Homo sapiens: one gene and its partner. The protein of the gene in region 2 purifies or fractionates together with the protein of the main gene of each other region. This does not show direct contact. Each region holds a gene or a part of one and is shown on either strand. Other genes may lie near its edges.

The links. Proteins that work in one complex are often made in the same cells at the same time.
Region 1: the proteins of GPR160 (region 2) and RNPEP purify together in Homo sapiens (affinity purification with mass spectrometry; one large-scale study listed by BioGRID and IntAct). This does not show direct contact.

The regions. Positions count from the first base shown.
Region 1 is NC_000001.11:201,985,648-201,989,147, reverse strand, and holds part of RNPEP (aminopeptidase B), read right to left. Parts: intron 245-3,500; coding exon 104-244; intron 1-103. UniProt on the Homo sapiens protein: Exopeptidase which selectively removes arginine and/or lysine residues from the N-terminus of several peptide substrates including Arg(0)-Leu-enkephalin, Arg(0)-Met-enkephalin and Arg(-1)-Lys(0)-somatostatin-14.
Region 2 is NC_000003.12:170,082,995-170,085,892, forward strand, and holds the end of GPR160 (probable G-protein coupled receptor 160), read left to right. Parts: intron 1-910; 5' UTR 911-978; coding exon 979-1,995; 3' UTR 1,996-2,398; downstream 2,399-2,898. UniProt on the Homo sapiens protein: Orphan receptor.

The DNA of each region.
Region 1 (3,500 bases), on a different chromosome or scaffold from region 2:
CTGAATGGATATAATAATTTACCACTGAAACGTGACCTGATTGATAGATCTGAAATCATTTCTTCATCCCAAGGGCAGGTGCACCTAACCTTAGTCTCCTTACCTCAATAAGAGCTGAATACTTGTATTTAACAGCAGGCGTGTCGAAGCAAGGGAAGAAGGCCCGGTTTAGGACAGCCTGGCCCTGGGTGTACACGAAGGGCTTCTTCTTTCCTGCTGTCTGCTCGGGAGCCAACCAGCAAACCTAAGCGAAAAGAAGAACATTTCAGAACTGACATCTCCCACACGAGCTCAGTCTGGCCAGAGAAGTGAGCTGGCTGGAATGAGAGAATTTTAGGTAATCCTTAAAACCTTTCCGCCAGCCAGTCTGGTTTGAACTAGAAAGCTCTCTCCTCTGTGTATTTAGTTCATCCTGGAATCCATGCCAAAGTATGACATCCACTTCACAGGGCAGAGCCACCAGAAAGGGTCCATTCCTCACTGCATCCCATGGGTCATCTCAGAGACCTTGGACCGAGCCTCTGATCTTGTCATCTGTACCCTATCTGTGTCCTTTTCACTGTAGTAGTTTCTCATCAAACAAAAAACTACTGAAGCAACTGCATTTGGACTTGTGATAAGACACAGAAAAGCAGAACTCAACTGGGAGTCAGTGATTAATATGTTTTTTTTTTTTTTTTTTTTTTTTTTGAGACAGAGTATCGCTCTGTCGCCCAGGCTGGAGTACAGTGGTGCAATCTCGGCTCACTGCAACCTCGACCTCCCAGGTTCAAGCAATTCTCATGCCTCAGCCTCCCAAGTAGCTGGGACCACAGGCGCGTGCACCACCAAGTCCAGCTAATTTTTGTATTGTAAAGATAGGGTTTCACCATGTTGGCCAGGCTGGTCTCCAACTCCTGGCCTCAAGCAACCCGCCCACCTCAGTCTCCCAAAGTGCTGGGAATACAGGCATAAGCCATCATGCTCAGCCTAATATACATTCTCTTTTCTTTTCTTTTTTTTTTTTCGAGATAGAGTTTCACTCTTGTCGCCCAGGCTGGAGTGCAATGGTGTGATCTCAGCTCACTGCAGTCTCCGCCTCCTGGGTTCAAGCGAGTCTCCTGCCTCAGCCTCCCAAGTAGCTGGGATTATAGGCATGCACCACCACATCCGACTAATTTTGTATTTTTAGTAGAGACGGGGTTTCATCATGTTGGTCAGGCTGGTCTTGAACTCCTGACCTCAGGTGATCTGCCCGCCTCAGCTTCCCAAAGTGCTGGGATTACAGGCATGAGCCACTGCACCTGGCCTAATATGTGTTTTCTGTTCCTAAAATTTACCTTTTCAGAAGAAAGGTATTTTATATAATAGGCACTGGTTATATGATTCTTTATCTGTGTTCTGTTAGCTCTTAAACAAAGGGCAAATCTGGGTTGGGTGCAGTGGCTCACGCCTGTAATCCCAGCACTTTGGGAGTCCGACGCAGGTGGATCACTTGAGGTCAGGCGTTCGTGACCTGCCTGGATAACATGGTAAAACCCTGTTGCTACTAAAAATACAAAAATTAGCCGGGTGTGATGGCATGCACCTGTAATTCTAGCTACTCAGGAGGCTGAGGCAGGAGAATTGCTTGAACCCAGGAGGCAGATGTTGCAGTGAGCTGAGATCATGCCACTGCACTCCAGCCTGGGTGACAGAGCGAGACTCTGCCTCAAAAAAAAAAAAAAAAAAAAAAAAAAAGTAAAATCTGAATGATTTATCACAAAACCCAGTTTTTGCCTATAGCAAACAGCCATTCATTTACCTGGAAGAGGGGCAGGATGGAGCATAGGTCAGTAACAAATAGCATTTAGAATTTAGAAATGGATTCGATTACTCCAGGATGATTTCATAGGGGAAGAAAACTTTCTGGCTGGACCTTCAAAGACACGCAGGATTGAGATGGCTGGAAAGGAAGGGAGGAGACATTCACAAGGAGACGAGCAGCAACATGAGGAGAGGCATAAACAGATGCAGGCTCCAGATGCAGAGTTGGGGAGGCAGGCCTGGGCAAGTCTAATGAAGGGTTCTGAACACAGCAGTGTCTGAGACCTATTTTAAGAGGCATAAGGAAGCTACGTTGGGATGCTGGGTTTGAGTTTTTGTGTGTGAAAAATTTAATTAGTCTCCTTATAACAGGTACAGTGCAGTATAGAAAGGGATGAGAGAATAACTTCACAGTGGAGAAAGCTGATAATCACTGCTTCAGCCAGGGGACCGAGGTTAACGCTGACAGTCATAAATCATGTGGATACTATGCGCCCTCAATACCTGATGAAAATGGCACTTTGGCTGGGCGCAGTGGCTCACACCTGTAATCCCAGCACTTTGGGAGGCCGAGGCTGGTGGATCACCTGAGGTCGGGAGTTCAAGACCAGCCTGGCCAACACAGTGAAACCCTGTGTCTACTAAAAATACAAAAATTAACCAGGGTGGTGGCATATGCCTATAGTCCCAGCTACTTCGGAGGCTGAGGGAGGAGAATCGCTTGAACCAGGGAGGCGGAGGTTGCAGTGAGCCGAGATCACACCACTGCAGTCCAGCCTGGGTAACAAGAGTGAAACTCCATTTCAAGAAAAAAAAAAAAAAAAAAGAAAGAAAATGGCACTTTACCTCTGTGAATTGCCCCTCAAAACCCATAATCCCAATCTAATCATGAGAAAACATCAGATAAATTCCAATACAGGGTCATCCTACGCTATACCTGGCCAACACTCCTCAAAACTGTCAAGGTTGGCTGGGCTCAGTGGCTCACACCTGTAATGCCAGCACTTCGGGAGGTCAAGGCAGGAGGATCGCTTGAGGCCAGGAGTTTGAGACCAGCCTGGGCAACATAGGGGGACCCTGTCTCTACAGAAAAAATAAAAATAAAAAAATAAAAAACAAAAAACTGGCTGGGAGCAGTGGCTCATGCCTGTAATTCTAGCACTTTCTTTGGGAGGCCAAGATGGGAGAATTGTTTGTTTGAGCCCAAGCGTTTGAGACAAGCCTGGATAACACAGTGAGACCTCATCTCTACAAATAATAAATTCAAAAAATTAGCTGGGCGCAGTTGTATGCGCCTGTAGTCCCAGCTACTTGGGCTGAGGCAGGAGGATCACTTGAACCAGGGGGATCAAGGCTGCAGTGAGCCATGATTGTGCCACTCACTGCACTACGGCCTGGATGACAGAGCAAGACCCTGTCTCAAAAAACAAACAAACTGTCAAAGTTATATCAAAAACAAGGAAAGTTTGAGAAACTGTCACAGTCCCAAGAGGATACATGACAGCTAAATATAATGTGGAATTCTGGATGGCTTCCTGGAACAGAAAAAGACATTAAGTAAAAACTAAGGGAATCTGAAAAAACTATGGACTCCAGTATCGGTACTGGTTTATTAATTATAACAAATATATTATTATACTAATGTAAAATGATTCAATCTTGGTTAATAATATATCAGCATTGTTTAATTGTAACAAATGTGTCATACTAATGCA
Region 2 (2,898 bases):
GTTTTTGTTTTTTTGCTATTTATAAATACTGCGATTGAGTAGTATTGTAGAAATAAGTTAAGTTTGGGTCAACTGATTTTTTTTAAGGATGTGTTTCTTGAATCTCCTACCTTTCCTTTCAGTCCTTTCCTGATTCTTCTTCTGACTTCTTTCATCATCTTTTTCCTGCTTCCAAAATGTATGTATCACTGAAGCCTCAACTCCTATTCCTTTGCCTTTACCTACCGCTTCCTAATGTTCTCATGTATCCATACTGAGTCCCTGTTCCTTCCCTGTATTCTCGTCTCTCCACATGCCATACCTGAAAGATCATATCCAGAAGATAAACACTTTTCTTTCTTTCCTTTACCTATGTTCTCATTATTTTTAGCTGAAACCACCTGTTTTCAGAGCTTCAGGAAAAGACTTAATCTGAAGGATCCTGCAGCTAAAAAGCTTTGAAAACTGTGTTAAGGGGCCCCATAAGCATCGCTTCTAAACTTCACTGACAAAAGGGACTGGGGTCATGCTGTCTGGAGTCAGAGTGAGGTGGGGTTAAAAGCTCTATGTGGTTGTTTTGCATATTACTATCAAGCTTCTATTTTAGGCATGAGTTTTGGCCCTGGTAGATAAAACCATTTCTCTATCTAAAAGTTATTAAAACCTGTACTTATATATAGAAGTTAGTAATTTATATATAACATTTTGGTTTAAAAATCTCTGAGTTCTGGACCATCTGGGTCTCAAAAAAATGACCAGAGTATACACATTAATTTTGTTCTGTATTCTATTAAGTATTATGTGACATATAATTCTTATTCATATATTTATTTGGGGAAATGATTGAATTAGGCTTTTAAGAATAGTGGTGCTTGCTTTGTAAAGTTTCAAAATAGGTAACATTAAGGTTTTCTTTTCACTTTTTTTGCAGGGACAGAAAATGAAGCAGTGTTTTATCATGTGTATTTCAGCAGGTCTTCTTGAAATTTAACTAAAAATATGACTGCTCTCTCTTCAGAGAACTGCTCTTTTCAGTACCAGTTACGTCAAACAAACCAGCCCCTAGATGTTAACTATCTGCTATTCTTGATCATACTTGGGAAAATATTATTAAATATCCTTACACTAGGAATGAGAAGAAAAAACACCTGTCAAAATTTTATGGAATATTTTTGCATTTCACTAGCATTCGTTGATCTTTTACTTTTGGTAAACATTTCCATTATATTGTATTTCAGGGATTTTGTACTTTTAAGCATTAGGTTCACTAAATACCACATCTGCCTATTTACTCAAATTATTTCCTTTACTTATGGCTTTTTGCATTATCCAGTTTTCCTGACAGCTTGTATAGATTATTGCCTGAATTTCTCTAAAACAACCAAGCTTTCATTTAAGTGTCAAAAATTATTTTATTTCTTTACAGTAATTTTAATTTGGATTTCAGTCCTTGCTTATGTTTTGGGAGACCCAGCCATCTACCAAAGCCTGAAGGCACAGAATGCTTATTCTCGTCACTGTCCTTTCTATGTCAGCATTCAGAGTTACTGGCTGTCATTTTTCATGGTGATGATTTTATTTGTAGCTTTCATAACCTGTTGGGAAGAAGTTACTACTTTGGTACAGGCTATCAGGATAACTTCCTATATGAATGAAACTATCTTATATTTTCCTTTTTCATCCCACTCCAGTTATACTGTGAGATCTAAAAAAATATTCTTATCCAAGCTCATTGTCTGTTTTCTCAGTACCTGGTTACCATTTGTACTACTTCAGGTAATCATTGTTTTACTTAAAGTTCAGATTCCAGCATATATTGAGATGAATATTCCCTGGTTATACTTTGTCAATAGTTTTCTCATTGCTACAGTGTATTGGTTTAATTGTCACAAGCTTAATTTAAAAGACATTGGATTACCTTTGGATCCATTTGTCAACTGGAAGTGCTGCTTCATTCCACTTACAATTCCTAATCTTGAGCAAATTGAAAAGCCTATATCAATAATGATTTGTTAATATTATTAATTAAAAGTTACAGCTGTCATAAGATCATAATTTTATGAACAGAAAGAACTCAGGACATATTAAAAAATAAACTGAACTAAAACAACTTTTGCCCCCTGACTGATAGCATTTCAGAATGTGTCTTTTGAAGGGCTATGATACCAGTTATTAAATAGTGTTTTATTTTAAAAACAAAATAATTCCAAGAAGTTTTTATAGTTATTCAGGGACACTATATTACAAATATTACTTTGTTATTAACACAAAAAGTGATAAGAGTTAACATTTGGCTATACTGATGTTTGTGTTACTCAAAAAAACTACTGGATGCAAACTGTTATGTAAATCTGAGATTTCACTGACAACTTTAAGATATCAACCTAAACATTTTTATTAAATGTTCAAATGAAAGCAAGAAAGTAAAAATTGTTCTTAAAATGATTTGGCATAAAGTTCAATGTAAGAGGAAGAAGAAGATTACCTCATTTTAAATGTAGCTAATTAATTTTAAAAAGTATATCTCTGTTTTTAATGCAAATATTCCTGGAAGAAGAGGGTTTTGGTTGCTCACCTTATGGAACTGGGAGCAGTGACTAGGTCCCTTTCGATGATTCAGCAGATTCGTTTTCATATTATAAAACTTGTATGTCATCACATACTTGCATATCACATCATAATCACGTTAGCAATGATGTATCACACGTAAAAGTAGAATTTCTCATCCTCGGCACGCTTGACATTTGGGGTTGGTTAATTTTTTGTTGTGGGGCAGTTTAGCAGGATCCCTGCTCTCTGCCCACTGACTGATTGGTGGCACCTCCATGCCCAGTAGACACAATAAAAAATGTCTCCAGACATTGCCAAATCTCCCCCGGTGGATAGGCAGAGTTGCTTCACTGGAGTAAAACAATATGA